Regions from separate parts of the Homo sapiens genome. Here all the other regions are linked to region 1. The links come from fine-mapping of genetic effects on gene expression. A gene starts in region 1. Each other region holds a variant in brackets. All regions are shown on one strand. Distances are between the middles of the regions. Region 1 holds the start of CD82 (CD82 molecule). Region 2 overlaps CD82 (CD82 molecule). Region 3 overlaps CD82 (CD82 molecule).

The links. PIP is the estimated chance that this variant, and not a neighbour inherited with it, causes the effect.
Region 2: its variant is the best candidate, but not a certain one, in a credible set for the expression of CD82 in whole blood (TOPMed, PIP 0.81).
Region 3: its variant is the best candidate, but not a certain one, in a credible set for the expression of CD82 in blood mononuclear cells (TOPMed, PIP 0.86).

Annotation. Positions count from the first base shown.
Region 1 is chr11:44,560,751-44,570,894 of GRCh38, reverse strand. It overlaps CD82 (CD82 molecule), which reads right to left and starts at 5,232. Exons shown (of 10, transcript NM_002231.4): 1 at 5,159-5,232. RefSeq lists enhancers at 1,418-1,607, 1,788-1,837, 4,144-4,213, 4,719-5,219, 8,059-8,558 and 1 more and a silencer at 5,134-5,733.
Region 2 is chr11:44,607,534-44,618,221 of GRCh38, reverse strand. CD82 (CD82 molecule) reads right to left here. Exons shown (of 10, transcript NM_002231.4): 7 at 2,849-2,950; 8 at 1-60. Among named protein-coding and RNA genes, the nearest start is that of CD82-AS1, 7.5 kb to the right of the region's middle. RefSeq lists enhancers at 1,456-1,805, 8,649-8,818, 8,822-9,322 and silencers at 5,987-6,036, 6,107-6,186. The variant T/C (reference allele first, on the strand shown) is at 3,624.
Region 3 is chr11:44,590,954-44,601,641 of GRCh38, reverse strand. CD82 (CD82 molecule) reads right to left here. Exons shown (of 10, transcript NM_002231.4): 3 at 6,917-6,999; 4 at 1,412-1,484. The coding sequence starts at 6,979. Among named protein-coding and RNA genes, the nearest start is that of CD82-AS1, 9.0 kb to the left of the region's middle. RefSeq lists enhancers at 1-233, 2,772-3,272, 4,598-4,837, 4,261-4,840, 4,841-5,419 and 1 more. The variant G/A (reference allele first, on the strand shown) is at 5,001.

The DNA of each region.
Region 1 (10,144 bases):
CCATTTCTCCAGGCCCCAGCTTGAGTCCCCACAGGATAGCAGCACCTTCCACAAACAATTGTTGACTCCAAGATGCTCTTTCTGGCTGAGTCAGAGTTCACTAAAGGCCAGAGTGGCCCCTTCCTGGGTTAGGACTGAAGGAAGTCATGCTGTTCCCCTCTCAGGAGGGTAATAAAGGCCAGGCATCGGAAGAGAAGCAGAAGCTCTGCTGAAAGCAATTCCAGGACAGACGGTGCATTCCCATCTCCCTGGATCCAGGTTGCAGAAGTGCGGCCCACAGGCCTGAAGCACCAGGCAGTGGCATCCAGGTCCTGCTTCCCGGCTCCACTTTGCCAAGGAGTCACCTGGTATGTGGTACCAAGCTAGGTACTGCTGATACCCCCGGCCTCACCCAAGAGAACCACTAACCTATTCATTCAGTCATCGATCCCCAAGTGCCTGCTGTATGCCAGGAATCAGAGATACAGACAGGACAGGGCAGTGCCTGCCCAGGAGAGCTCATGGAAACACATCATACACCACAAAGTGGCAGGATCAAAGAGGAGGGTACACAGTGTAGACAAGCACAGAGGAGAAGGTGAAGGGCAATGAGGGGCTTGGGAAAGGCAGCCAAGCACAGAGGAGAAGGTGAAGGGCAATGAGGGGCTTGGGAAAGGCAGCCAGAGATGTTCAGACCTACTGCCCCTCAGGAAGCTGAGCGTCACAGTGAGGAGACCCAGCCACCCCCAGGAAGAGCCAGAGAGCCCCACATAGCCAGACATGACTGGCGTCTTGGGGCACACACATATTGGAGAGGCACAGAGGCCCTGTGCAGAAGGAAGGTGTTCTGGGAGTGTCCCTGGGGGCCTGAGAAGGAGCCTGGCACCAGCCTTGAAAGACCAACCAGATACAGCAAACAACAATGGCTCTCCTTTATTGAGCATTTACTATGTGCTAGGTATAACAATACTAAGCATTTCATGTGCACTTTTTTGTCTTCTCCTCATGACCTATGAAGTCATGACCATTATTATCCCCATTTGCAGGTTCAAAAACTGAGGCTCAGAAAGAGTCACGTAGCCAGAAATTGGCAGGGCCGAGATCTCAACTCTAAAGTCCAGTGCTTTACCGCCATGCTGTACCATCATCTCCCTAATCTGTTAACAGGCAGAAAGAAGATAAAGGTGCTTCAGGTGGGGGAAACAAGGTAAAAATAGGGAGGTAGGATCAAGTGCTCTTTGAGGGGAGCTGCCCAGCTCCTCTGTGTTGGGGTTGTATTTGTGTGTGTGCGCATGCCTGAGTATGGGTGGGTGTTCACAGACATGCCCTACTTTGCAAAGGATAGATCCCAGGTCCCAGAACTCCCCGAGAGCCAAGGAAAGAATGGGGCATCAGCAAGTCAGGGAAGGAATCCCAGAGAGAAGGAACTTATCTAAGGTCACACAACATACACACAGCAGAGCAGCAGCCAACTCCAAGGACCAGAACACAGGTCTCTTTCCTCCATCAGCTGCCTGTCCATGTCAGCACAGTGAATCAGCTGCTGACAGGAAAACCACAGTGGAAGGGGAAGCCCGGGGGTGAGTCAGGAACCAGCCAGCCTCCGAGAGACACCAGCTGGGCCTGTTGCAGAGGCCCCGGGTCTGTGGTTGTCTGCCTCTTCTTAGGGCAGCATCAGGGGCGAGGGGAGCAACACATCCCACACCACTCACTCCATGTTTACCTCTGGGCTTCCCCTCCCAGCTCCTCAGACCCCGGCTTAGTGGAGGGGAAGCGGGTGGGTAGGGCAGTTCCTGCTGAGATTAAACGGGTCCTGTCCCACAGAGGGGCCCAGGCCAAACAGTCCAGGCTCTTCCCTCCCTTCCCACCTCTCACAGAGCCAGCTCCTGGCCGTTTGATGTTCTTGATTAAGTCATAACCGCCCCCTGTGAGCTTCCCATGGGGCAGAGGAAGTGGGTATAACGGTTTGGAGCAGAAGGCCAAGGCCAAGGTCAAGCCAGAATCAGGGGTGCCAGCTGGCCCCAGATGCTCCGAATCTGAAACAACACTCAGAACTTGGGGCTGCTCAGCCATGGGTTGAGGGAGGACTGTCTGGTCCTTAGGGGAACAGGTTTGGGTCCCCAGGGTGGAAGGGGATGGCCGGTGGGAGCTTCCAGGCTGTGGCTCTAAAGCGTGAGGCCTCAAGACAGAGGGGGCCGCCCCCACATAGCGGAAACTTCAGAGGAGCCCAGGGAAGCCAAAATCCTGCCCCAGTCCCCCTACTGTGGGAAACTTGTGCCCTGACTGCTCACCCACTGCCAGAGATAGCACATGGCTGACCTCTCACCCCTATCCTCCCTGGGCTGGGATGGGAGGGAGGGATCAGCAGGCACTTCTTCTAACCATCCCGCCCCCGACCCCCAAACTTACTGCTGGCTGGCACAGGCTCCCACCTTTCGGCCCAGATGCCTCCCCTTCATGGGCAAACCCCTCTGTAGCATTCATCACCCTCCCAGCAACCCCGCCACTCACCCAATCCAGCCACCTTCCTGAGACCCTGCTATGTACCAGACAGGATAGGGAGGAGAAAGAAGTGCAAATGTGCTGGAACAGTCCCCTCCCACCCCTCCAATGGTGCCTTTGCTCTCCCTGTGGCTGGTGTCTCTTCCTTCACTCCCAGTTGCAGACATCCCCAAAGCCACCCAGACCCCTTCTTCCCAGTCACTGCAGCCATTGGTTCATTATCCCTTGACCGCTGGATCCTCCACCCCAGCACATCTGGTACAGACTGACTTTCCTAAAGTGCTGCTCTGTTGTGTCACTCCTCTCCTCAGAAACCTTCAGTGGCTCCCACTTTCTGCAAATCAGATCCAAAGTTCTTATCCTGTCATTCAAGGCCCTCCGTAAGCTGATCCCACCTACTATTCCCACTGCATATCCCCACACGTTCCCAAACTTCAGCCAGAATGAGCAACCTAGAGGTTTCTCGAGAATTCTCAGGACAGGTTGACCTCCCTGCCTCTGCCTAGGCATTTTCCTCTCCTCAAGACACTATCTTCATTCTGGCTGCCGAAATCTTCCCAGTCTGTAAGGCCCTGAAGATCCCTCTAATCCTTTTTTCATTTATCTTCCATCAGAGTCCCTGGTATTCTTGTGTAAGCCCCTTCCCGGATGGTAAGCAACCTGAGGGTGCAGGCCTTATGTGGTCGCTTGTCATTCATCGAGCAGGAAGTGGGGGTGGTGGTGGGGAGGGCTTTCCATTAAGGCTCACTAGGTAGGCTCTGTTGAAATGAACGTCTCCTCCTCCCCACCTCAGGCACCACCTACCAGACCCTCTCCCTCCCCACCATACCAAACTCCAATTTATGCCACTTCAGTGCTTGAAGAGACTGTGGTCCCATGTTGATCCAAGCCAAACCAGGACCAGGAGCCCAGAGAGAAAGTCCTATTCAAGTCTCACCCCCTCCAGGAAGCCTCCTTACCCCCACCCCCTGCCCTGGCTTCTCAAGTGTCTCACTCTTCTGAACACCTCCCCCTGCCCTACATACACACACAGTCTCCTGCACACAGCGCAGCCGCCAGTCCGTCTCTGTCCCACAGCACTTTCCAGTTTGTTCCATACTGTACAGCTTATCTCCCAGAAGATGCAGGGAGCCAATATAATGCAGCACCTTCAGCGTCCTTCAGTGTCCAACCCTGCTTAGATATCGGGTGCCCACATTGCCCCTCGCCCCCATCCCAAGCCAAGTGTGCAATGGTATAGCTGGATTCCAGCCACCAGGGCAGAACAGACCCATGAAATCTCATCTGGTTATAAGCCCTGGGTGTGACTGATCCTCTCTACAGGGACATGGTAGGGATGGGGGAGCCCTCATTGTCAGCAACTCAGGCCTGGCTAGTTCACCTCTGTATCCTCTAGCTCTCTCTAGCATATAGTAGGTGCTCAGTAAACATTTTTAGACTTATTTAACTCAACACTTACCAACCTCAAGCAACATTACAGAAAACTCAGCCACTCTTTGTTCCAGATGACACAGTCCTCATCCCTCAAATAGAGTGATGTTGGTGGCAGGTGGCAATTTCTGGCTTTCACAAGGTCAGGAGGGGCTGTAGCCAACCCCATCTCTCCAAGAAAAAAAAAAGGCTCATTCCCCATAGGAAGCAAGCCCATCACCTGCCCACCCGCATCAAAGCAGCTGTCACAGAGGGAGGTCTCACTGGTTTCCTGGCACCTTGCTAAGTAGTGTATACACATTATTCTATTTAGTGCTTGCTCCTGCTATTGGATATTGTCATTATCCCCATTTTACAGGTGAGGAAACTGAAGTTTGGAGGGGGAATGGAATCCAAATCAGTTTGATCCCAAAGCCCAAGCCTTGACCACAGAACTATGCTGCCCCGCTACTGGGGCCCAGCACAGAGCACCCACCACCTCCAGGAACAGAACCCGTCAGCCAAGAAATTAACCCCGGGTATGCTTCAAGGGCCCCTGGGGCCCTGGGCTTGACCCTGGGCCCAAGGATTGGTGGGGTTTTCCCTTCTCTTCCCCACTCACCAGTGTAAGAACTGTTCCCCAGTTTCCAACCTCCTGCTCAGGCCAGCTCACCTGGAAAAGCCCCACTGAGTTTCCAACTTGAAGTCTTAGGGGGTCCGGCTCAGTTGAACTGTTAGAATTGGTGGGAAGCAGGTGAGGCGGGAAATGGAACCTCCCTGCTTTGGCCTCCTCTTCCCCAGGGTTGGTGGGTTCGAGCCCCAACCGAGGAAACAGTGCACTCTTTAAAGCAATTCGCTTCTCTCAGTCCCATTTTGCAGGGAGAGAAACTGCAGAGGGCAACGCGATGGGAACACCTGTGGCGACCTGCAGCCTGCTCTCACCTGCCAGCTCTCACCTTCCGGCGTTTTAAGTGAGAAAGGGCAACGGGAGCGTGGAATTCACCTGGTTCACTTCCTCCTGCTGGAACCCGGGAGGTCCAGAGCCAGGTAGAGGGACGGACCCAGGATCACGCAGCTGTGCACGGCCGAGTGTGAGAACTGGGGGTTCAGGACTGGTGGCTAAAGCTCCTTTTCACCCACCAGCTGCCCCGACCTGTCACTAGTTCCGAGGAAAGTTGTCCGAGCCGGACCGCAGAAGCGGGGGCTAAAACTAACTTTGCCTATGGTTGTCCGGCAGGCTACCCCGGCCCGCTGCCCCCTTGCTCACCTGCGGGTTCTGCTTTCTGCTCCGCGCTGCAGGCCCAGCGTCACCCGCTCGTGCCTCAGTCGGCGTCGGACTGCACAGCCCGGGGCTCAGTCACTCCTCGGCCCCCTCCCGGCTGCAGCCGGGGAACGCCGCGGACTCGGCAGGCCCCGCCCCCAGAAGACACGCCCCCTCCGCCGGCCCCGCCCCCGAGCCCTTTGGGAAGGCGGTGCGCTCCCGCCGGCCAGGCCCCGCCCACTATGGCCGTACCCCAACCAGCCTCGCCCCCGGGCCCAGCTGGAGCTGAGGCCCCGCCCCGCTACGGAGTCTCTCCTCTATCCCGGCAGCCCCGCCCCCAGGTTACACTGGGGATTAAGCCCGCCCCGCTCCAGCCCTGTCCACTCACGGCGCTGCCTAACGGTCCCGCCCAGCTCCCGCCTACCTCGTCCTCCCGGTCTCCTCCCGGGCCCTCCCAGCGCCCCCGCCTCCTTCACTTTCTCCTTCGAGCCCACCCCATCCCCCGGCCCTAGTAGGGTGAGGCCACGCCCCTCCCCGCACCAGCCTGGGCTCAGCGCCTTCCTAATCCTGCCCTGCCCTGCCCCTCTCATCTCGGGCGGGTAGCCCTGGGGCCCCCACGCTGGCATTCCAGGGCGGGTGTATCCGGGTGCCGCCGGGGAACGGCGTGGGAGCGGTTTGTGTCCTAAGTCGGGGCCTCTATCAGGAGGCGGCCTGGGCCCAGGAACTTTTTGAAAATACTGACTACCATTGATTGAATCCTTGCCAGGGGCCAGGCTCTATGCCAAGCGCTGAATACAGTTCTAGCCCTTGAATTCCCACAACTCATGGGTACTCTCGTTGCGCCTATTTTACTAATGCGCAGTTTAAGGCTCAGAGAAGGGAAGTCGAGGGCTCTGAATCTCATGGAGGCGGGCGTGAGCGGGATCCAGCCTCAGGTCCTGAGTCACAGGCTTGAGCTGCCCCAGCTTGCCTGGACTGGCCCCTGGGGAAGTAGCCCAGAACAACCAGTGCTGGGGCAGTGCCCAGCAGCTGCCTGAGGTGAGGGAGGAGGTGTGGGTTGATGAGAATAGTGGCAGGAGGGGCTGTGGGCCTAAGCCCTCAAAGCTGGCTTTCTCCCTGAAGAAAAAGTGGCCCAAAATTGAGGTGGGCTGCAAGAGCTCTCTAGGTGGCTGCGGTGCCCACCCTGCGTCCCAGCCCTCTGCCCTCCCAGGCTCCAGAGGACTAGCCTCAGGCAGATTACCTGGTTAATGACCAGGGGCATTCACCTGTGCAGCTGACAAAGCTCTTTCACTTCCATTATCACAATGTCCTCTCACAACACACCGTTGTGGGAGGGTATGATTATGAGCGCTTTGTACGAGTGGAGTAAGGGCGGGAGCTGGATCCCAGCCCAGCACTGTAGTTCTCACAGCGTGGTCCTTGAACCAGGAGCAACATCATCTGGGAACTTGTTAGGAGTGCGTATTTTGAAGCCCCATCCCAACTTACTGAATGGAAAACTGTGGGACAATTGGTTTTAATAAGGCCTCCAGGTGATTCTGAATCACATTCAAGCATGAACCACTGTTGAGCAAACTGTAAAGAAGTCAGGGTGGTCTGAGAATCACACAGACCTAGGTAGCTTCCTGGTTGCGTTTTAAACCCAGGACAAGGCAAGATACTTAACCTCTGGGATGAGCCCTTAAACAGGGAATAATAATAAAATGAGCCATAACAATCATACCGATCTTGATGGTAGCTGTTGAAGATTACATGTGACAGCATTCATAAAGTATTTGGCCCACCGCTTGAATGCCGTACATGCTCAGAAAATGTTCTCTTTTCAGCAAAAAGTCTCCTTCATAGCATTCCCACACCAAGTCAGAAAAGTGAGGCTGGAGAATCCTTTAAACCCAGCAGTGTGTCATACCCGCAGAGAGACACCCTCTATCCTGCAAGTGGTTAAGATCCTAACAAGCTCCTAGATGATGTGGATGCTGGTCCGGGGACCACACTTTGAGAACCACTGTGCCATTCTGTCTTGGGCTGGGTTTCAGATCCCTACCCTACCCAGCCCATGCAAAATGGGCATAAAATTCCTCCTATTCCACCCTACTCCACACCCCGCTCCCTCCGAGCTGGGGGTGTTTGTGATGGTGTATGGCAGATGCTCCTGACAGCAATAACTTGACTTAAGCATACCCTGAGAATGGTCCTGTATGGCAGATGCACCCCAATGTGTGTTTGGAGTTTTGAGCTAAGGAATCCGGGAATGACCAACCTGGAGATTCATTCCTTATCTGTGAGGAACATTTGAACCCCGGCCCATCCTGTGGAATGCAGGGTGTACAGGGGTTCAAAGCTCTTTGTTTGGGGCCAAATGAAGGTTATCAGGTGGGGGTTGTTAGGGGGAGGGTGCTAAGTGAGAGTGATGTATAAACTGCATGCTTTTTGTAAGCGGTTGTGGCTCTCCTGCCCAGCCTGCCATGGGACTGTACAGTTCTCCTGTCCAGCCCACTGCCACCGGCCGTCCCTGTGTGTAAGTTTCCCAATAAAACCCCATGTCCCAGTTGCTGGCTCTGGTCTCTCCTTCAGCCTCTTGAACCTAGTACCATCCCTACTGAAGTTAATAGGGCTCCAGCAGACAGATGGGAACTGGCCATTGGCAAAACAGCTGGATCCCCTCACTGTCCCCTCCCCCCATGAAGACATTCTCTCATATTAGTCCCATCTGCTATCCCTTGCTGCCCTGCCACTCCTGATTAGAGATAGAGGCAGCTGTGGTGACATTGAGAGCAGTCTTCAGGCAGCTTCTAGAATCTCTGCCATACTCCCTGTCATTGTCTGAGTCCCACAGAAGAGTGTCTCCCTGTAGGAGTGCAGGGCCTGGGCACTGGTCCTGTTATGCTGACCTGCCCGAACATGGAGAGCCCAAGTTAAGAGTGCAAATCAAGGACCAGATACCTTGTATCTAAACATTTAACTGACTGTGAAATAAAATGTGTATTCTCCTGCCTTGACAAATGTTCTTTCTAATGACCAGGAAGACCATGTTCAAATTTAGCATTCTTGGACTCTTTAGAATTTTATGCAAGAACATGGCAGTGCGGGAGGATAGCCTGGCCCTAGCCCTCAGCCCACCCACTCCACTTCTCTTCACACTCCATCTCTGTCTTGTGTCACAAGTGGCCTAGGACTCAGGCATGTGGATACTCCAGCCCACACACCCAAACTTTGCCCACACGCCTTGCCTACAGCCACCTCTTCGTCACCTCTCTATGAATGCACATTCCAGGGACAGGATGTACCCTCAGGAGGATGGACCTGGGCAGGCAGCTTTGTAAACCTTAAAACTGGCTGGGGGGCTGAGCACAGTGGCTCACACCTGAAATCCCAGCCCTTTGGGAGGCTGAGGCAGGAGGATTAAAGAGCTCAGGGGCTCAAGACCAGCCTGGGCAACAGGATGAAACCCTGTCTCTACAAAAACTACAAAAATTAGCTGGGTGTGGTGGCGTGTGCCTGTGGTCCCAGCTACTCGGGAGGCTGAGGTGGGAGGATCGCTTGAGCCAGGGAGGCGGAGGTTGCGGTAAGCTGAGATTGCACCACTGCACTCCAGCTGGGCAACAGAGCAAGACCCTGTCTCAAAAAACAAAACAAAACAAAACAAAACAAAACAAAACAAAACAAAAAAACTGGCTTGGGCTGGATAGGCAGTCTAGGTTTTTAAACACCCAAAGCATGATCAAGGTCAGGTGTGGGCTCTGGGTGGCCACAGGTGCCCTCTTGTCCAGGTCTATGGTGACATTGCCATTTGGCCTTGTCTCCCCAGCTTCTAGCACATGCCTGGAAGCTTAAGGGACAGTTGTTGAGTAGATGTGCATCTGAGTCTAACTTAGTCCATTTTCTGTTGCTATAACACAATACCATAGGCTGGGTAATCGATAAAAGAATTTTATTTTGTATAGTTCTGCAGCCTGGGAATTCCAAGGTTGAGAGGCTACATCTGGTGAAAGCCTTCTTACTGACTCATCACATGGTGAGAGGGCAAGGGCATGCCACCGCAGGTCTCTCTTCATCCTATTATAAAGCTACCAGTCCTCATCATGAGGGCCCCATCCTGATGACCTTATCTAATCCTCCCAAAGGCCCTACCCCCAAATACCATCAACATATGAATTTGGGGATTCAGTTTCCAATACATTCAAACCATAGCAGAGTCATTCACTGAAATATCACATTGGGTTGGCTCCCTCAGCATTGTCCCTATCCCCTCTCTTCCAGCAGAAGGCAAGCTTTGTCATGACTCACCTTGGGCATTTTGCCAGGCAGAAAGCGCAGACACTTCTAGTGAGACTCTACCTCTAGTCCATTCTAGAGGTGGAGCCAGGAGTTCTGGAGGTGGGAAAAGGGGTGAGAAGAACCACCCTAGAAAGCCTTGAGAGAAGATATCCATGGCCAACTTGGAGATGGGGAAGACGGTGGTGTGGCAAGACCTCAGAGAGGTATGGCTATAGGATTGCCAGGCTCTCAGAAGATTCCCCCACCCCAAAGGTGGAAGATGAACAGCTGAGCAGGAGACTTCAAAGAACTTGTAGGCAAGAACATGGGGGCCAGTTCCCTGTTAGTGTCTGGGCCTAGGTTAAGGCCCCAAGACTTTTGCACATCTCTGGTGGAGGAAGGTAAAGAGAATGAGTGCGGGTATCTGTTTCCTACTGTTATGTAACAAACCATCCCACTCATTTATTTTGCCCATAAATCTGCAGTTTGGGGTGGGCTCAGCAGCAACGGCTTATCTCTGCTCTACGCAATGTCAGGTGGTTCAATTGGAGGTTGGGGATCCATTTTCAAGATGGTGTACTCACACACCTAGCAAGTTGGCACTTGCTGCCAGCTGGGAGGTCAGCCAGAGCTGTGGAGGCCTTTGGTCCTCTCCATGAGGCTGCTCCACAGGTTGCTTGAGCTTCTTCATAATTTGGCTGCCGGTTTTGAAGAACAAAGACTCACTTAGAAGTG
Region 2 (10,688 bases), 47 kb before region 1:
ATTCATGAGCTCAGCGTTGTCTGTCCAGTTGTAGAAGCTGACCCAGCCGCAGCACTTCACCTGGGCAAGGCAGGGGACAGACTGCTTGTGCTCACGGCTCACCCTAGGCAGGCTGCCCTCCTGGCAGAGGGAGGACCTCCCCAGGACAGAGACTGAGATATGCCACTTCCAGGCCCCTGGTCCCAGCCGAACCATCATAAACTACAAGTACAGCAGAAAAATCAAAACCAGGACCAGCAAAAATACAAAGCAGAGTAGGAAGGAAGTTCAAGTTGAAGGAGCGCAGGTGTGCAGGGCACAAGGAGAATGGACGGCAGACAGTTCACAGTGCAGGGTTTAAAGTCAGGCTACTGGGTTACAATCCCAGCCCTGCCGCCTACCAGCTGAGCAACCTCCATCAAGGAACTAGCCTCAGTTTCCTCATCTGTAAATGGGGATAATTAAAATCCCCAACTCACAGGGCTATCACAAGGACTAAATGGGATGAGGCAGGCAAAGTACCAAGCATAGGTGTGGGGAGCACAATAAGCTTAGGAAAGGCCGTTCAACTTTAGTGCAGGAGTTGAGATTTGCCTCTGAGCTTCCTGGTGAAAAGGAAAAAAAGTGAAAAGTGAAAAAGGAGACGGGGTCAATTCCGCCTTTTTTTTTTTTTTTTTTTTTTCTGAGACAGAGTCTTGCTCAGTCACCCAGGCTGGAGTGCAGCAGCGTGATCTTGGCTCACTGCAACCTCCACCTCCAGGGTTCAAACGATTCTCCTGCTTCAGCCTCCTGAGTAGCTGGGATTACAGGCACTCGCCATCACGCCCGGCTAATGTTTGTATTTTTAGTAGAGACGGGGTTTCACCATGTTGGCCAGGCTGGTCTTGACCTCCTGACCTCAAGTGATCCGCCCGCCTCGGCCTCCCAAAGTGCTGGGATTACAGGTGTGAGCCACCTTGGCTAGCTGGTCAATTCTGCCATTTTAAAGGAGAAAATGCTCTAGTTCTAGAGAGAAGAAAGCCTTTCCGGGCTCTGTGTGCTAAAGGAGGTCTCTGTGTGTGAATCCCCGCAATGCTGGGGGTTCCTGGGAGGATTCAATGGGATAGCCACGGTCACAGCAGGGGTCAGTTCCTGGACCGCTTCCTTCCTAGCTCCGAGGGGTGTCGCCTGACCAGTAGCCAGTGGCCAGCAGGGGGCGTGCCAGGCACACTCAGAAATGCTCAGCTCCAGGCAGTTTCTAATCCAGGTTTACAGGTGCTTGTTCCAGCAGCCGGGCTGCCTCCTCTCTCCAAGAAAAGGCTGGCACCTCTGAGGGGTGCACAGGTCTGCAAGGCTGGGGGCACCCACAGGCCATCCTACACCAGAGCAAAATGAGGCAGGTCTCCTTGGCCCGTCTACGACAGAGCCTCCTTCCAAGCAACCCCTTGGCCTGACTCCGGCTGTACCTGGTCCCCAGCAGCACACGCCACCTCCGCCTGTGTCTCCATGGATGTGCATGGTGACTAAAACATCACCACCAACATACCACATAATAAATGCTGCCTAAGTGCTTCAGGCTTTAACAATGTATCTCACACGGCATGGGTCAGTAGCCCCATTGTATAGATGAGGAAGCAGGCTCAGCAAAGGTCTAGCGGCTGTGGCAGTGTTAGCACTCCAGGCCTTGGGAGTCTGACTTACCACCGGCCTAAGCAGCATCTGACAGCATCAGAATCATCTAGAACCAGCCAATGACTTTCCAGGGTAGGATGCTTACCACCTCCCAAGGGACCCACTTCTCCTCCCAGGTCCCTTGTCAGGTGGCACTGGTTTATGTCACTGGTGACATCCAGACTTTGCTAAAATTAGCAAAGTCTCAGCAATTGTGGGTCAAACTACATATGCGACCAAAACATTTCCTTGTGTGCACCAAGCCTTCCAGCTGCCACAACCCCCACACCTGATCTCCTCGGTCAGGGCCAGAAAACATCGCTCTCCCCTTCCTCCACTGAGAAAATGGCCATGTCCATGTCACCTAGATGGAGTGTCCTCTCTGCAAACTCTCCTGGTGCCGCTGAGTCAGGCTTTCTCCTGCTGCCCATGCCCTTTGTACTCCACATCCCTCCCCTGAGGTGTCAACAGGCCCTAAGTGACCACTGTGTCCTGCGCCCTCACAGGATTGCAGATCAGAGATGTCAGGTCCCAGCCAAGGGCACATGCAGCATCCGGGACCACAAGAAAGGAGAGCCAGGTGGTCATTGGATCACTATTGAGACAGGCTGGGAACCTGGTCAGTCTATCTGTTGGTCAGTCGGTCAGTCCGTCCGTCCATCTGTCCACCCATCCATCCATCCATCTCTCTCACTTTAATGGAGGTATAATACACATGAACTAATGGGCACACATTCAGCTTGGTGCATTTTTACGTATGTGCACATACTGGCGAAACCAGTATCAAGATTTGGCTAAAATACTCCTTTTGCCCTAGAAGGCTCCCCAACACCTCCCCAGCTAGTGCCCTTCCCCAGAGGCAGCCTTCACTGGGACTTCTCAGCATATCAGCCTTGGCTCCCAGTTTCCTAAAACCCAGAGTGGAGCTCCCAACGCTCCCCAGTGTAGCTTGAGATAAGAGGGCTGACAACTGCCCCCATGCTCTCTGGCCACAAATGGGAGCACAGAGCTGTGAAGCTGCCTCTGAGTCTCTGGGCCCCCTGAGCAGGGAGTTGTGGTGCTAACTGGGGTGCCCTGCCCCCATAGAAGCACACTCTCCTACAAACTGTCAGGCACACACGAGCACTGCAGATGCCAGTCCCAGACATGTGGGTGCACAGAGCCCCAAATGCAGGGACACCCAGGCCAGAGAGCCTCCTGCAGCCCCGCCCCACCTCACCTGAGCCTGCACGTAGTCCCAGGCATCCTGCAGGCTGTCCTCGCGACTGCTGTTGTAGTCTCGAATGAGCTCAGTCACGATGCCGCCCATCTCCTGCTTCAGCTGCAGGGGGGAGGACAAAGGTCAGGGTCAGATTTCCTGAAACCCGTGCCCACCTGTGGTCACCCCTACTTAAACTGCCTCCCCCCGTTCCCCTCAGCAACCCTGGGACACGCTCATGGCTCCAGCCACTTTCCTGGCGCTCCCAGGGTGCCCGATGCAGGCAGTGCCAACCACTCCTGCCCCACTATCTCTTCTGCGCTTGGCAGCAGCCTGGCCCTGTAAACATCAATATTCTCATGTCACTGCTGAAAACCCCGTAGGGGCCTCCCACCTCCAGGGCAGTTCCCACCGTCATTGTCCCCATAACAGCCTAGGAGGTCCTACACCACTTGTCTGCCTCCCCAGGCCTTCTGTCCTCTGTTCTTCCTCCCTCTGCTTCAACTGACTAGATTTCTGTGCTGTCTTTGTGCCAGGCACACTCCTGCCTTGGGGCCTTTGCACCTGCTGTTCCCACCGCCTGGAATGCTCTTCCCCTAGACATTAACATGGCTCACCCTCTGCTTCCTTCAGGGCTCTGCTCCAATGTCACCTCCTCAGAAAGGCCTTACCAGACCACTCTACAAAATATCAGCCCTTCCCCATCCCCTCTCCCCCAACCAATCAACCACCCCTCCCCGGCCTCCCTTATCCCACAAGGGAAAGCATGCTGTATTTCTCTTTAGAGCACTGACGT[T/C]ACATGCTTGTTGGTTTTCAGGGCTTATCATCTCTCTCCACTAGCACATCAGCTCCGTGGGGGCAGGGACCACATCTGGCACGCTCACTACAGGGTCCCCCGTGGCTAGCGCCAAGCCTGGCACAGAATAGTTGTGTGGGGTACGTGAATGCTGAATGCACACCTAACCACCATGGTCTGCCAGGCACCAGAGCCAGACCCATGCAACTTCTTGGTGAATCCTTACACCTCCCACAGGGCAGCTTCAGGGAGAAGGAGGGACAGGGAGGAAAGCCCAGCTCAGTTTCCTTCTTCCAAGGACCAGAGTGCAGCCTCTCCAAACAGGGCCCCCAAGACAGCAGGGTAGATGCCTGGAGGGGGCCCCAAGACTGAGGGACCTGGAACTTCGGTATCAACTATATGGTCAAAAGATCCTCCCTCTATGTAGTCATGGTGGTGGGTGCCCGTAATCCCAGCTACTCAGGAGGCTGAGGCAGGAGAATTGCTTGAACCCAGGAGATGGAGGTTACAGTGAGTCGAGATCGCACCACTGCACTCCAGCCTGGGCGACAGAGTAAGAGTCCATCTCAAAAAACAAAAAACAAAAACAACAACAAAAACAACAACAACAAAAAACAAAACAGAAAAGATCCTCCCTCACCCCTTCCCAAGCCCCAAGCCAGCAGTGCCAGCCAGCCGGAGTGTGAGGTCAGTTGCCTTTCTGGGACCTGGCTACTTGCCCCAGAGCTCCAAAAACATCTCACTTTTTTTTTTTTGTTTTGCTTTGTTTTGTTTTTTTGAGACAGGGTCTCCCTGTCACCCAGGCTAGAGGGCAGTGGCAGGATCTCAGTTCACTGCAACTTCTGCCTCCTGGGGTTAAGCAATCCTCTCACTTCAGCCTCCCAGGTAGCTGGGGCTACAGGCATGAGTCACCATGCCCGGCTAATTTTTGTATTTTTAGCAGGGACAGGGTCTCGCCATGTTGCCCGGGCTGGTCTCGAACTCCTGACCTCAAGTGATCCACCCAGCCCAGCCTCCCAATGTGCTGGGATTACAGGCCTGAGACACCTCGCCTGGCCCAAATCTACATCTTGCCTATGCTGGTCCTCACCCTGCTCAGGAATTAAGGGTTCCTTCTTGTGGTGGAGAGCAGCACCTGCTCTCAGCTAACCCCACAGAGAAAACACTGATTTACAAAGCAGGCAGAGAAGGGGTTTCTAAATAAGTCAGTTGTGCAAAAGGAGGCAAACCCAGAGCCCGCTGAGGGCAGGGCCTCCCTCGGCGATAAGCAGGCCTGGGTGGGAGGGGAGCCTCCGAGAGCCAGCCCCTGCCTGGCTCCACCTAGCCTCTCACATGGACCTTGCCCAGAGACCTTTCAGGGCAAATGCATGGTTGGACTGGTCAAGGCAGTGGGGGCGAGGGACCCTAGAAGGCAGGGATGCCAAGGAGAAGGCCACACACCTTCCCACCTCGGTTCCTGAGAAGGAAGAATTGGGAGAAATGAGACAGGTACTTCCAGGTGGGGTTTCAGAGCCTGACTCCCAGGGAACCCTGTTGGTGGAGCTTCCAGCAGCTCCCCATGGGCAGTCCTTGAATGAACGCTGTGCTCAGAGAACCCATATCCTGCAGATGGACCTGCAGCCCTGGCTCCTCACCCAGCTCCCTTGGTTAAATTAATGCTGGGGCTGGCCATGGTGGCTCACGTATGTAATTCCAGCACTTTGGGAGGCCAAGGTGGGCAGATTACGAGCTCAGGAGATCGAGACCATCCTGGCTAACATGGTGAAACTCCATCTCTACTAAAAAAAAATACCAAAAATTAGCTGGGTGTGAATGGCAGGTGCCTGTAGTCCCAGCTACTCGCGAGACTGAGACAGAAGAATCGCTTGAACCCGAGAGGTGGAGGTTGCAGTGAGCCGAGATCACGCCACTGCACTCCAGCCTGGGCGACAGAGCCAGACTCCATCTCAAAAAAAAAAAAAAAAAAAAAAAAAAATTAATGCTGGGAAACCAGCCTCTGATGACGCTCCCTGCCCTTCTCTCAATAAAGCTCTCAGCATGATATTTAAAAAAAAAAAAAAAAAGCCCTTATACAGAGTTCTGCAATTTACAAAGCTTTCCTGTCAGTAATTAATCCCAACACTAATAGTGGCTAACTTTTATCAAATGTTTGTTATGTACCTGGTGCTGTGGTAAGCACTTTAAATGTATTATCTCAACTGAATCTTCACAGCAGACCTATGGCCTAGGTATTCACCCCATTCCCTCATTATAGAGATGCAGAAAACAAACCCAGAGAGGTTAATTAACTTGCCCAAAGTCACACAGCCAACATGCGGAAGAAGTGAGGTTTGCACACAGGCTTGGCTGATTTCAGAACCCAGGTTTTTACCTATTAAGCTTTATTGGCATTTAAACCACACGGCTATACCCAGTTTTAACCAGGGCCCAGAAAAGCTAAGTGGTTTGCCTGAGTCACATAGCTGGGGCTGTCTGCCAGGTGATCTGACATCTCGGGTCCACCTCTCAACCCCAGTGGGTGGGTGATCCCCACGGTGTGGAAAGGAGGGGCTCTCTAGAAGCATCTGTGCGGAAAGCTGCCTCTCCCACATCCTTCCCCACCCACCCAGCTTCCTCACAACATGTTGCACTGAGGCTCTGTTTAAACCCCAGCGTGGTTGTCACAGCAGCCTGGACTTCCCTGTTTCTCTCCCAGCCTCCCTGAAATGAGAAGGTGATGGAAGCTGGGTGGTTTCCACCTAGATGGGTGGTTTCCATGGAAACACCACAACATCTTTCAGTCCAGAATGTGGTTGAGGGACACACCTGGGCCACGGGGACCATGGCCACAGGGGCTGGTTCAGCTTGGAGCTGATGCTCAGGAGGCCTGTGCTGGGAGTGCAGGGAGGTCACCCTGGCAACCAGGTAGCTACTGAGACAAAAAGGACAGGGAGGTAGCAGGAGAAGACATTCATGAGCTCCCTCCATCCCCCCAGGGACCGCTCCATTGTTTCTGCCTGCCCTGCAGAAACCCACTCCTTGGATGTAACCACCCTTCTATTTCTCCATGGAGCTGAGGAGGCCCCACTCCCTCGATGCCAGAAGCAGGCAAAAGACCTGGGCTGCCACTCAGTGCCATCCACATCACAGGCACGGCGAGTGGTTCAGAGATGGGCTTGAGACCCATGCTCACATACCCGGCCCTCTTTCCATCAATGTGGTAGGATGAGGACCTGGGCTACCCTCAGGCTCCACTGGGGACAGCCTGCCCGAGAAGGGAGCCAACAGAGGAGGGTAGGGCTGAAGGGTGAATAGGGACAGCAGCAGCCTTTGGGATCCAGCTGAGCCTTCTGCTGGCTCTGGCTACTTTCAGTTGAGTCACTGTCACATGCCATAAAGAGTCCTGCCCAGGGCCAGCTGCATAATTTACACCTAGTGCAAAGCAAAAATGCAGGGCCCCTTGTTTAAAAATTATTAAGAATTTCAGCTGGGCGTGGTGGCTCACACGTGTAATCCCAACACTTTGGGAGGCCGAAATGGGCAGATCACTTGAGGTCAGGAGTTCGAGTTCAGTCTGGCCAACATGGTGAAACCCCATCTCTACTAAAAACACAAAAATTAGCTGGGCCTGGTGGTGTGTGCCTGTAGTCCCAGCTACTTGGGAGGCTGAGGCAGGAGGATCACCTGAGCCCAGAAAGTGGAGGTTGCAGTGGGCCGAGATCATCCCACTGCACTCCAGCCTGGGCAACAGAGCAAGACTCTATCTCAAAAAGAAAAGAAAAAAAAAAGAATTTCAATACAGCAACAGCAGATTATCCTGTGTGACTGCATAGGTTGAATGCCGAGGAAGCCAGCCCTGTCTTCCCTGTCTCCCTCCTCCCCATTTCTCAGAAGAGAAAAATGAGGCTCAGAGTTGGAGCAACTTCCCAAGATCACATAGATAGAAAGCAGCAGAGACATGACCAGACCTTGATCTGTGCAGCTCCAGGGACCCGGGATCTTAGCCTCGGCAAGCTGCCCAGGGCCTCCCCATGACCCTGCTGTCCTCTGCATGGCTCTACTCACGTCCCACCCAAATGCTGAGCTTTGACTTCTCTTTTAGTGTGAATTTTCACAGAGTCAGAGTTAGGAGAGACCTTTGCGTCCAGCAAATCATCCAAATGTAAGAGTCATGCTTTTTTAGGCTCTGCTTAAATGCTCCCTGCGATGGGGAAGTCAGTACCTCACACAATAGCATGTTGCGGAGTTGAGAGGCTCTGATACAATTTAAGTTCTGCTCAAATGACTTCTACCCACTTGTATTAGTTCACATCCTCCTCCTCTCTCAGCTACCCAAGTCCCAGCTAGGACCACAGGAACAAATCAAATCCCTCTCTCGAAGGACACATGTCATCCAGATACTTGAGACTAGACTACATCTCCAGGGTAACTTTTCGGGCTCCTGTGCCCGCCCCTTGGGGTGCTGTGCAGACCTCTTGCCATGCTCTTTAAGGTGTGAAATAGCCCCTTATAATAAGGTATAAATGCATGAATTGGACCCACATCTTCCTGTCCTCTCCAGGTTTCCCACATGAGATGTTGGCAAATGCTTTGCTAGAATACAGATACACCAGCTCAGAGGCTGCATCCCAGTACCCTGATAGGAAATGAGGGCGCTTCCTGCATCTTTTCTGCAAGTCCAGCTGCAATCCACGTAATTAGCTACCCCAGAATGCAGAGCCAGTGACCAGCGTGTGCTTCAGAGATTCTAGCCCAAGTGTCTTTCCATAATCCCTTTCCAGAGGGGTAGCCTGGACTCCTCCATTCCCTTCTCAACAGGGGAGAGAAAGGTCACCTCTCCCTGTCCCAGGCTCCAGCTGCTCTTCCTCCCTCTGCCCCATCGCAAGAGAACCCCAAGCCAGAGAATCAGGAAGTTCTAATTCAGCAAGCAGACAGTTCACAGAGAACCACACTGTCCCCTAGGAACCCGTCTCGCCACCTGTGTCTCACACATGAGGGTATGTGCGCACCAACAATTTGGGGCTTTCAGGGTGAGAGCAAGGAGGACAAGAAGGAAGTCACAGTTCCCCTGACCAACATCTCTGGGGAGTTGTCTGGCCAGCCACTGCCACTGTCACAGCCCCCACCTCTGGCTCCCAGCCAGGCCAAGTGAGCCCCTTCCCCTCCAATGTCTTCTGCTTGAGCGTGACAGCACTCAGAGCCTCAGGGGCCTCCCTGGCACAGGTATGGCCTGCCAAGTGCACCCAGCTCAGCACCCACACACCACAGGAAAGGGCAAACTGCATTCACTTCCTTCTCACTCCTCCCACCTCCACTCTCTAGAGAGAACAAGTCAGAATCCCTGACTGCCTGCACTGGGCATGGCCCAAGAGCTCGCCTGTGGATCAGAGAGTCTGGGTAACTTATCCGAAGCCACACAGCAATCAGCGGCAGAGCCCACACTAAAACACAGGGCCCCTGAATCCCAGGGCTGGGCTCTGCTCACCAGAGGCTGGATAAACAAGCAGATGAGGATCTTAGCACCGTGCCCAGATCCCCATTCCCGCAGCCCTTGCTCTGCTGACAACGAGGGCAGCAGGAACAGCTGCCACCTATTGAGCCCTTACCAGGCCTTCATGAAGTGAATAATGGCGGCAATAATAATAAACACTGGCAATGATGCCAGCAACATCAGCCTCCGGCTGAGTGCCGCACGACGCCCTTCCCGTTTGTTAGTGCTCTTCATCTCTGAAGTGCTGCAAGGCAGCCCCTGGGGGCTCCGGCTCGAGACAGGATCAGATTTTAGAAAGGGCCTGGAGGGACAGATCACACCCACTAGTGGGGGCTGGGGCAGCAGCCTGCAGTGAGTCTCATTTCTATTTCCCTAGGGACACCCGAATGGGGCAGGCAAAGGCCATACATAGCCTTGCTTCTGTTCAGGTTCAATTTTGCCACCAAATTAGTTGCAAATGCTACTTTTGGTTTTTAAAGTGTTTCTTTGGATTTCAGAATTGCAGAGAAGGGACAGTGGGCCTATATTGTTACTAGTTTGACAAATGTGGAAACTGAGGCACAGGGAGGCTGAGTAGCATGCCCAGAATGTCAGAGCAGTGGTTCCACAGTCAAGACCCTTGGACACCATTCTGCATTTTCACAGAAGTGTCACAGTCTGTGTTCACTTCAACCTGAGTGGTAGAGCAGGGAGAGGCAGATTTATTCTCAATTTATAGAAGCAGAACCCAAGGCTCCAGAGGTGACAGGCCATGCCAAGGTCCCCAACCTCCCCATCGCTGCCCTGAGAAGAGTGGCTGCGGGTGACAGAGGCAGGAAGGACAGAGGGCAGCCCTGGAGACCACAGCAGGGTCACTCCCACCCACCTGCACGGGAGCCCTATCTCCTTTCAAAAGGCCTTTCTTTTCCTTAGGTTCAAACAAGTCCCACCCCCACGCTGAGCCTTGTCTGCCAGAATAAACACATCAAGAGTATGTTTAGTCTTCCACTGAGATTTATGATGCGTTGCGAAAGAAAAAAATATATTGTTCATTCCAATTCGGGCGATACAGTGGCACCAGAACTTCTTCAGCAAAGCCAGAAAATTTCCCCCTGCCTTCCAGAAAAGATGGTGGTGGACTAAGGTGAGGCAGGCTGGGACTAGGGGGTGTGGACTCTGAAGGGGAAGACAGGGGCAGGGGGTGCAATGCACAGAGCTTGGCTGGGGTCGAGAAACCCAAATCTCCAAACAAGTCCTGTTCTGGGGCTGATAGGACACCTCTGAGGCTAAGCTCCTCATTATCAGCCAAGCAGAGTTACCCAGCCGGCGGGAGGGCAGCGTGGTGGATAGGGAGGCATGGGCCTTGGACTCCAAGGCATCAGGATGGAAATCCCCACTCTGATGCATCCAAGCTGTGTGTGTCAGTGGCTGAAAGTCACTTTGCTTTCCTGGGCCTCAGTTTCTTCAAATGGAAAATGTTTGTAAATTTGAACATGTATTGCAGCTCACTTTTCTAGCTCAGCTCCTGGCATGTGGTTGGTGCCAACCTGGTGGGCCATATTTATTACTGTGAGATGGTGAATCACATAGGGTGGACTGCCCAAGATCCCTGCAGA
Region 3 (10,688 bases), 30 kb before region 1:
GGAAGCTCTCCCCACCCAGTGGGCTCACCCCCACTGCGCCAGTTGCAGGGCAGGGCGCAGAGGGCAGAAATGTGGGTGGGCAGGCTGGGCCTCTAGACTTTGCCCTGGGGTGCAGTGCCTGCTGGGTTGGGCCATGACTCAGGAAGTAGAGAGCTGGGCCTAATGGGGCCAAGGAGGGTGTGTCACAGGCCAGGAGAATGTGGGGGGCACGGGTAGCCCACCCACCCTAACCCCAGAATGGAGGGTGAAAGGGGATGAGACTGATAGCCCCGGGGTGCATCAGATGTGGCTAGAGTGTAGATCATCCTTGCTTTCCATCTCCTGGAGGGGAGGCCTAGCCCCTGGGGCCAGGGGGACAGATGTGGCCCCTCCATCATCACATCCTAGCTAGGTTCCGCTTTATGTAAATCAAGCAGCTGTCATGGGCCACATTCCAAACCAGCTGCCTTGGGCAGCTGCTGGGAGAAGTGAGCCAAGGCCAAACTCAGCGAGGGGAGTGGCACGGCTGTCCCCTGGGGGCTTCCGCTGTGCCTCCCTCTCCCACCACAGGGAGCCCCTGAGAAGTCAGCGTGGCAGGCCCTGACGGCTTCCTGGAGGAGGCCGAGCAGGCGCAGAAGGGCTCTTATCCCTGTAAAAATGCCTTAGGCCCCTTTCCTTCTGCCTCTGGTGAAAGAAGGGGTTTCCACACTGTGGCTCACCCTGCCATGTGCTGCATTTAGGACCAAAGCTCTTGGAGTTCGAGTCCCACACCTACCATTTAGAAGCTGTGTGAACTTCAGCAAGGGACTTAACCTCTCTGAGCCTCTGTTTCTTCATTGGTGAGGTGGGAATAGAACAGTATCTACCTCACAGGGCTGTGGTGGGATTAAGACAGTTTATCGGTGCAAACTGCCTGGCACATGAGGAGCCTGATAATTGGTGACTGTGCCTGGAACCTTCCTCATCTGTGCACACACCTGACCCACGTAGGTGCTGCCAGGCTTATAGCGAAGCACCACTCATAGCAGGTGCCTCATCAGCCCCTGACTATCTTTCCTACATCCCTGTGAAATGGGAGGGGCTGTTGCCTACATTCTGCTGGATGGGCAAGTGACGGGACAGAGAATGTAAGAGGCTTTCCTAAGGTCAGGGCCAAGGGAAGGGGCCAGGAAGGGAAAACAAGCCTCCCTCATCCCCAGTGTTCCCCCAGACAACAGCAGCTTTGTTCGGGGAAGAAGAGAAAATTCCTTTTGGAAACCCCTGCAGAGGGAGCCATGGGCAGTGGTGGGCAGCAGGACCTCGCCACATCCCTGAGGTCAGCGGGAAAAGCAACAGGCATTGAAGCCGAAGCACTTATGGGAGCAGCTGTATCTGCGCCCTGGCCCTCCCCTCTTCAGTGGGCCTGGGTCTGGGGAAGCTGAGGGGTCCTTACGCAGGACAGAGATGAAACTGCTCTTGTCGGCCAGGATCCACACCCCGAAGCCCAGGATCACTGCGCCCAGGATCTGGAAGGAGAAGGGAGCAGTTAATGGGGAGCCAAGAGCAGATAGCCCTCCCCCTGCCAGCTGTCCCTGGAACCCAAGTCAGGGTGGGCAGGGCAGGGGGCCACAGAGGGCACCACATCCACCCTTCTCCAGCCCAGAGATGTCCAGATGGCCTCCGGTCCCACATCGCAGCAAGCCAGACACCAGGACCCTGGATAGGGAATCCCTCCTGCCTCCCATCTTGCCCCCCTCCACCATGTGTGATTCAGCCAAGCCTCCTGGTGCAGCCTCCTGCCAGGGGCACCCTTCCTGCCACATCTCCTGGCTCTTTTCTCAGCTCATCCCCCCGACTCCACCCAGTTCAGGGCCTGGGAGCTTCCCAAACAAGAAAGGCTCTGAGGAGGACCCTCCGTGGACTTGAACATCAAAGCCCAACTCATCCCCAGGTCTGAACAACAGGGTCACCTGCCACAGGAGCCTTCTCTGACCCCCTCAGGCAGACTCGGGTGCCCCCATTCTGCAGCAACCACTGTCCCACCCTTCTTAACAGTCATTCCGACTGGGTCTAACTGCTGTGTTGGTTTCTCTGGCTAAACTGTGAGCTCCCTGAGGGCAGGGCTGGCTGGAGGCAGCTCTGCATCCCCAGCAGCTCTACAGCACTGGGTGCTAAGTGGCTGGGGGAATGAATGAGCTGATGAACCAAACTGCAAATGCAGGACTAGAAAGGGAAATGAAGGTCAGGCCCGGTGGTTCATGCCTGTAATCCCAACACTTTGTGAGGCCCAGGCAGGAGGATCACTTGAGCCCAGGAGTTTGAGACCAGCCTGGGCAACACAGTGAGACCTTGACTCTACAAAAAATTTCAAAAATTAGCCAATGTGGTGGTGCATGCCTGTAGTCCCAGCTACTGGGGAAGCTGAGAAGAGAGGATCACTTGGCCCCAGGGAAGTCAAGGCTGCAGTGAACTGTGTTCATGACATGACCTGGGTGACAGGGCAAGACCCCCTCACTCTGCCCCCCACAAAAAGGAAAAAATGAATGAGGTGTTACAAATAAGGATCCCAAGCCCAGGGATTCCCTGCCTCTCTCCCATCTACCAGGGCTGAGCTCATCTCCCCAGGTGGAGTCCCAGCCAAGATCCACCATCCCATAAAGCTGGCAAAGGCTGGGGAAGTGCCTGCCATCTGGGCAAAGATGCAGGTTCCCTTTGGAGGTGGGGGTGGCCCTGTGTCAACCCACAAGGCTGGCCATTAGTGGGGGCCTGGACTGGGCCCACCTGGTGGATGACCCGTCTTGAAACTCCCACCTGTATCACAGCCCTGGGTTCCCACCTCAGCCATCATCCCATAATCTCAGGTTGGAGGCCAGCAGCTGCCATAGAGCCCCGAGCCTGGGGCTGGCCTGGGCACAGGGTCTCCATCAGAATCATTCTATCATTATCAAAGACCAGAGCCAGGACCGGCCCAAGGCACGAGGCACCTGCCTCAGGTGTAACACATGAGGAGGCACCAAAAACTCAGGCGGGTAGATCACCTGAGGTCAGGAGTTTGAGACCAGCCTGGCCAACATGGCAAAACCCCGTCTGCACTAAAAATACAATTAGCTGGGCGTGTTGATGGGGTCCTGTAATCCCAGCTACTCAGGAGGCTGAGGCAGGAGAATCACTTGAACTCAGGAAGCGGCGGTGGCAGTGAGCCAAGGTCACGCCACTGCACTCCAGACTGGACAACAAGAGTGAGACTCCGTCTCAAAAAAAAAAAAAAAAAAAAAAAAAAAAATTAAGGCCAAAAATCCATGATAACTGAACTATTAAACTTTGAAATAAAATGTTGACAGTATCAGTATTATCAATGTTTCCTTTTGCCCCAGGGCCCAGGTGGCTCAGTAGGGGGTTGCCTCTCTCCCTTTACCCTTGTACTTGCTACCTTAAAGACCACTGTGACTGATGACTACAACCACAAAGGCACGGTGACCACCCCACGTCTGCCCCCCAGTGTCTCCCACCAGAATCATCACTGAGGTATTATCTGTCCTCTCCTCTCTCCCAGTGAGACGGGCCTTGTAATTGACCTCATTTTATACACACGGAATTTTATATGAGGCCTTGATTTTATCCATCAGGGACTGGAAGCCAGATGGTGGCAGGTGAGCTATAGGGATATTTTGGATCCATCCTGGGCCTTCACCCAGAAAGCCAGTCTCGGGACAGAAAAGCCCCTGAGACACTGGGGAGGAGAAGAGTCTGCTGGAAGGTGGGTCCACCTTAATTTGCACAGCTGGGGGAAATGGGGGCTTTCCAGGACCTGGGAGTTTGGTTCCCCAAGACCTGCAACCCTACCCAGCCCACAACCACCCCACAGCACAGCGAGGCAGGGGCCAGTGCTCAGGCCCACGTCTGCTCCCTCTGCATCTCAGACCCATGTGGGCAGAGCCCCTGCCCCATTCCCTCCCACATTCACAGGGTGGGACAGGAGGGAGGACAGCCCCTACCAAAAGGGAATGGGAGGCAGGACAGAAAATCCCCTCTTGGCACACATAATCCCAAGTAGATCAAAACCCCACACTACTCAGCTGGCTCCTCAGCTTGCCAAGAGGAACCCAGAGAGCAAAGTCCCCGGGGCTACCCATTCAGTCCCTCTGTAGGTCTGATGACCCCAGCCTGATGGTCAGATGTGGCTGGATTAGCCACGGGGCTGTGGCAGAGCCAGAAAGGAGGCTGGGCAGCCTACCAGAATGGGCAAGGCACCATGGCACCCCCTTTTTCTCTGTGAACCAAGACTGGAGCTGTGGGGCAGGCCCCATGTTAATCACTCCCCCAGCCCTTCCCCAATCCCCAGATGGGACCCATCAGGAGCCAGGACCCTCAGAGCAGTGAGCGTCCTTCCCCAGCATAGCCACAGCACCAGTGCCTCTGCATTCCTTTGGACCTGAGAAAAGTGGCAATGCGCTGGGGAGTCTGGAGTCCAGAGGGAGTACAGGCAAAGACATACAGGTGCACATGCACGCAGGCGCGAGCACACATAGCAGCCACGGGGATTTTTCCAAACCACAAATCCAACCACGAAACCCCTCCCAATGTGCATAAAACAAAGAGGCAGGCTGGCCGGGTCTATGCCTGGGGAGGTGCACTCTGCCTCCACCGGCTGCCCCTGCTGCCAGGATCCCCCTCTCCAAAGCCACACCCAGAACCCCAGGAAGCCTTTGCTGACCTCCATGACCAGGCCAAGAGCCTCATCTGCTTTCCGAAGAGCCTATCTGTTCCTAGTACCCCCAACAACTGCAATTTTTCATGCATTTGAGTAGTTATTTGATGGAAGCCCACTGCTCCCTAGGACACAAGCTCCGGAAGTATAGCAATCAGGGCTCTTCCGCCCTGAACATCTGAAGATGCTGAGGTGTCAGATACACATTTGCTGAGGAGTAAACAAGCCCGTTCTGCCTCCTCCAGCCCTCCTCTTTCACTCTCACCCTCCTGTCATACAAGCTGCCCCTCCCCCCTCCACCATCCTGATGGGTCATCCTAGGCCCCAGTACACA[G/A]ACAGTTAACACCTGACTCCTGCCAGCCCCTGGAGGAGCCAAAAGGAGGCCAAGCCCTGGCCAGAGAGCAGCTTTTCCAGTCCCTGGTTCCACAGGGCAACTTGCGAGCAGGACAGAAAGGGCCACCCTGGCTGAAACCACCAACCCCACTCCCTTTCTCTATGAGGGTCTCCCCAACCCCCACTGCATGAAGGAAAGTTTCTTTATCACTGAAACCCAAGCTCCGTGATCTCCTAGGCCAGAGCCCAGGCTCCTCTCTCTAGTCCCTAAAGCCCCCAGGGATAGAGCTACAGTGCCCACGCACCCCTTCCCCCGAGTCCTGGCCCATTGGCCTTTATGCTGGGTCTCCGCCCAGACACCAAGTGCTTGCCAGGAAAAGCTTGGCTTTGCCTGCACAGGCAGCTGCTTCCCAAAGTCCTAGGGCAGCCAGGAGAGACCTGACCGCCAAGCTGGGGAAGCCCAAGCCCGGCCTGGGGTGGGTTCCAGGCCCGGCTGCCATGAGCAGAGGGCCAGAGCCACAGTGGGGCCTCACAGGGTCCTCCAGGAGGGAGCTAGGGCCGGGGCCAGGGTGGAAAAAAAGCAAGGCAGGCAGCGCCAGGGCTTCCTGTGTGTGTGCATGCGTGTATGAACACTTGTGTGCGGGTGCCAGGAACACATTGTACATGTCTGTGCATTGGGTTAAAGCTGTGAAGGGGGAATTTTTAAAATTCTTTTTTTTTTTTTTTTTTTTTTTGTAGAGAAACAGGGTCTTGCTATGTTGCCCAAGCTGGTCTAGAACTCCTGGACTCAAACAATCCTCCTGCCTTGGCCTCCCAAAGCACTGGGATTACAGGCAAGACCTACCATGTCTGGCCAGAAGGGGAATTTAGAATGATTCTTGTTTATTTCCCAAACTTCCCATAAACTATGTAACTTGTAATGTAAACCCCCTGTTCCCCAAACAAGTAATTAATATCTACCGTAGAAAATTGGGAAAATACAGAGATGCATAAAGAATAAAATCAAAATTCCCAAGAATCCCAACATTAACATTGAGGTATTTTCTTCTCCTCTCAAAAATACTCACTTTTTAATGAATACGTACATTTAAAACTTTGGATCATAAGAAACATCCTACTGTACAACCTGATTTTTTTTTAACACTATAGGGTTAAACCGTCAACACAGGGAAGCCAGCGCTCCCAACACTACTCTGAGGCTATGAAGTCCTCTCCAGGGCACTGCCCCCCAACAACACACTCTCACTCACACACACACCCCACCATCCCAGCAACTCCAAGGCAAGAGGCAGTCCATGCCAGGCCAGAGAGGAAAACCGAGGCCCCAGGAAAACCAGCAGTCAATGTCCACAGAGCTGACATCCGGATGGCCCATCTGCTGGGGTGGGTCTGGGGAAGGAGGTATGTGCCCTTCACTGGCCCCACGCCTGGCGCCCTCTTGCTCTCCCTATGAGAGCTCAGGGAGATACCTTCCCACGACAGGGACGGGGGTGTGATAGGGGCAACTGGGGCCTGGAACTGTCACAGGTCAATTCTTCACATGGGCAGGGTGGGGGCCAGGACAGGACTAGAGAGATGCTAAGAGGCTTCTTCTAGCAGCTCCTGCTGTTGAGTTAGGGGGATGCCCAGGGGCTCTCCTCTCCTTCCCCATACCCACCGCCAGCCCAGGCTTTGGGTGATCTAGGAGAGGGGAAGGCCGGGTCAGGAATCCAGTGCTTGGTCAAAGGACCAGCTGGGAATGGCAGGGAATCTCCTCACCACCCCAACTAGGTTCCGTTGGAGATAGTTCGTCCTCAGTCCCTACCCACCAAATCCCCCCAATCCCCGGCCCGGTCGGCTCTGGAAAGGCTCAGGCTGGGATGCCCCTGGAAGGAGAATCTTTTCGGAGGTGGTCAGGACGGCATGGGACATACTTACAAAGAAGATCAAGTTGAAGAGGAAGAGAAAGTATTTGGTGACTTTGATACAGGCTGAGCCCATCCCGCCAGTCCTGGAGCTTCCTGGAAGAGAGAAGGCAGGCAGGCCAGTGAGGGGATCAGCTCAGTCTGCCCTTGCAGCAACCCCAGGAGGTGGGTACTAACCCTGTCCCTGCCTTAGAGGATGCAGAGGCCCAGAGAGGTTAGACAACTAGCCCAAAGCCACACAGCTAGGAAATGAGGTCCCACGAGCAGTCTTGTGTGCCAGGCACTTGATGCTTGGCAGTTAGGATCCGGATCAGCCACTGCACTGGGGCTGGGGCTGGGGCTGGGGCTGGTGGGAGCAAAATGACAGAGGGAGACCCTCACCCCTCACCTCCATGACCCAGGCTCTGGAACTTGCACAGATGGACTCTGTTTGAAGTCAGGGGGCCGGGAAGTTAGTGATCCATTGACAGAGACCCAGAGGTGAGACCTGTGCTTGTTCCACAGACTCCCTCTGGGACTAGGGGCTGGGAGTTGTGGGGTCTGCCAAGGCGAGAAGGGGAATTTTGGCTTCTCAGAAAATAGGCTGAGCGTCCCAGCTTCTTATTACAAAGGGAATAAACATGCATTGTAGAACACCCAACAAATACAGAAAAACAGAAATCAAGCAAAATGTATCTCACTCCAGAGATTAAAAACTGTCATCGTTTTAGTAGCTATTATTCGTGTGTGTGTGTGTGTGTGTGTATAACAAATGGTTCTAATCAAAATTGGGCTCATTCTGTATAGTGTTTTCTAGCCTGTTTTTTTCATTCTACAATCTTCACTCTCTATATGTTGATAAAATGCTCTTCATAGTTTCACATGTTGCATAGGATTCCATCCTATTAGTACTTATTAACATTTGGGGGCTCACAGAGTCCCCCAAAAAATTCATGTGTAGTTAGCATTTTGTGATGCTAATAATTTCTGGGAGTTCATGGACCTCTGAAACCCATTCAGGAACCCCAGTGGCCCCAGGTTAAAGTCTCAGATGTGGCCATCCCATAAAAGCATTTAACTGATACTCTAAGATTGGACACACAGGTTGTTTCCAAGTTTTCACAGTCTCCCCGATGACACAAGTTGTGCTTCTGAAATGACACAAACCATGCTTGGGCATGCTGTGCCCCCTCCACTCCAAAAGACCCCAGGTGAGGGGAGGGCCCCGGGAGGAAGAGGGAAGCTGGAAGCTGACTGTTCTCACCCTGACTCAGAGGCCAGAAAATCCAGGAGTGCCAGCCGCCAGCCTTCAGACCCTTTGGGGCAAAGGGAGCCAGCACCGCCGGGCAGCTGGGGCCTGGACAGCTGGCCTGGGACAGCTGCATGGGCAGAGCTGGGCTGGGGGGGTGGAGGGGACGGCACCAGGCCCACTTGTGTTTCCCTGCCTTATGGAGGGGGAAGGGCAGGCCACAGAGCAAAGGGAAAGGAAAGCCGGAGGCCCGGGCTTCACTCCTTCTTCCTCCAGCACCACTTGAAAGTCTTCAATTTCCCCGGCTACACACAGGTTCCCTACTCTTTTCTGGACATGCTAACGATCAACAATCTTCCATCCTCCTTGTCAAGTGGGAGCTCAGCTTCCACTTCACACACCTCCGGTGATGGGGAAGGTGGCTAATGAGGAGGGTTCATGACCTCCCAAGGGGTCCAGTCCAGTTTTCTTTCCTCTAACAGCTTTGTTACAGGAAGTTTTCTTTAAGTGCCTTTTTAAAGGGCAGATTTGGGAGGTATAATATGAAGCAAAGCTGCCCAAGTTAGGAAAAAGCTGCCTGGGTGGTAGTGAGCTTCCCATCACAAGCGGCATGGAAGCAAAGTCTAAAAAAATACTCCTGGGGGATTTAAGTGCTATGTAGGGAGATTAGACTAAATGGCTCTTCCAGTCTAGGGGGCTCCAAGGCCTGGGTCTGAGAATTGCAGAGATGGCAGTGACTCGGGAGCCAGGGCAGTGCAACCTGGGCAACTCCCCAGACCTAGAGAGGAGAAAACATGACTTCCCCGTGCCCAGGAAGCCAGAGATCTTCAATGCCCAAACCCCGTCCTGGCCTAGGAAGGCCTCCTGGGAGTCTGCACTACATCAAGGATAGCTATTGTTTTTCCTCTCTCTCACCTCCCAGCACAGAGCCTGACATACCACAGGCACTTCACAGACTCCAGGAACTAAACAGCAAGAGAAGAGAGATTCTCTCCCAAAGCCAGGCGGCATCTGTTCTTCTTTCCTACCACGGATCTGCTGTGTTTCAGCCTGACCAGGTCTCCTCCCAGTAAACAATACGGGGCATGCCCCAAGAGACCAACCAGGTTCAGCGCCCAAGCAGCAGTAGCTAGGCCACCCCTTCACCAGAAGAACATCCACTAACTGCAGTCCGCCAACAAACTATGCGTCTTGGCAATGGGGCCATTGGCATCCTTGTGAAATTGCAGAAGTGTGGAAAGAGTTCTTTGGCAACCCTGAGTCAGATCCACGGTGTTGCAGTTTCAGAAAGTCCGGGAAAGGGGTTTCTACACTTTCCAGCTCACACATCCTCTGCTCAGCCTCACGGTGGGGCATTCAGCAAAGGGCAGCTTTTAGAAAAGAATAAGTATAGGCCGGGCACGGTATCTCATGCCTGTAATCCCAGCACTTTGGGAGGCCGAGACTGGCAGAAGACCTGAGGTCAGGAGTTCGAGACCAGCCTGGCCAACATGGTGAAACCCCATCTCTACTAAAAATACAAAATTAGCCAGGCGTGGGGGTGGGTGCCTGTAATCCCAGCTACTCAGGAGGCTGAGGCACAAGAATCGCTTGAACCCAGGAGGTGGAGGTTGCAGTGAGCTGAGATTGCGCCACTGCACTCCAGCCTGGGCAACAGAGACTTTGTCTCAAAAAAAATAAAAACAAAAATAAGAGTAAGTATGACGTCTGTAAGGAGAAGGAGTGGCCGCCAGGGAATAGCAACTACTACAAGTGGCCATGTTCAGACATCATCCCCCATCATCCTCACAACCAGCCCAGGAAGTGAGTATTCCTATCCCTGGCAGACCAGAGGCTCAGACAGGTTCAGTAACTTGCCCAAGTCACACAGGTCATAAGTGGCAGTGGTTTTCAGACCCCAAGATCTTTCTTCTGTGAAGTGGTCCCTCCTGGACAGTAGCCAGGATTATAAAGGGATCTTTGGGGACGGCTGGGTTTCCTTTGTCCAGTTAGGTGTGAGGACAAAATGACTGCTCAGAGGAGCTCTGCTCAGAGGGCAAGGAGGAGGCTGGGAAACCTTGTCACCAAGGCAGACGTGGCTGGGCTGGTATTCCCATGATATTCCAGACCCTGGGCAAGCTTGGCTGGTCCCTTGGTCACGCACACAGATTGTATCAGGCACTGGGCTAAGCTCTTCAGCCCTCTACATGCAAACAGAGGCACAGAGGGGAGAAGGAGCCTGCCCAAGGTCTCAAGTAGGAGGACTGGCAAGGACAGGGCCCAGGCTGCCTGGCCCCTTACACCACCCATGGGCTCCATCCCACACAGGAGGCAGCTGGGTGGGTCCAGAGGCTGAAATGAGAGCCAGGCAGCCCAGTCAAGTGGGACAGACCCAGAGGTATCTGGACATCACCCGAGGGAGGAGAAGGTGCTGATAACTGGAACCTGGGATGGGCAGCTCCCAGGCACACTGGCCAAGATCCAGAAGACAAAGTCTTCCTGCCCTGCAAGTGCAGATGCTTCTGCCTCAAACTGACAGGGAGCAGAGGGTGAAGAACATTCTCCACACTCAGCGGGA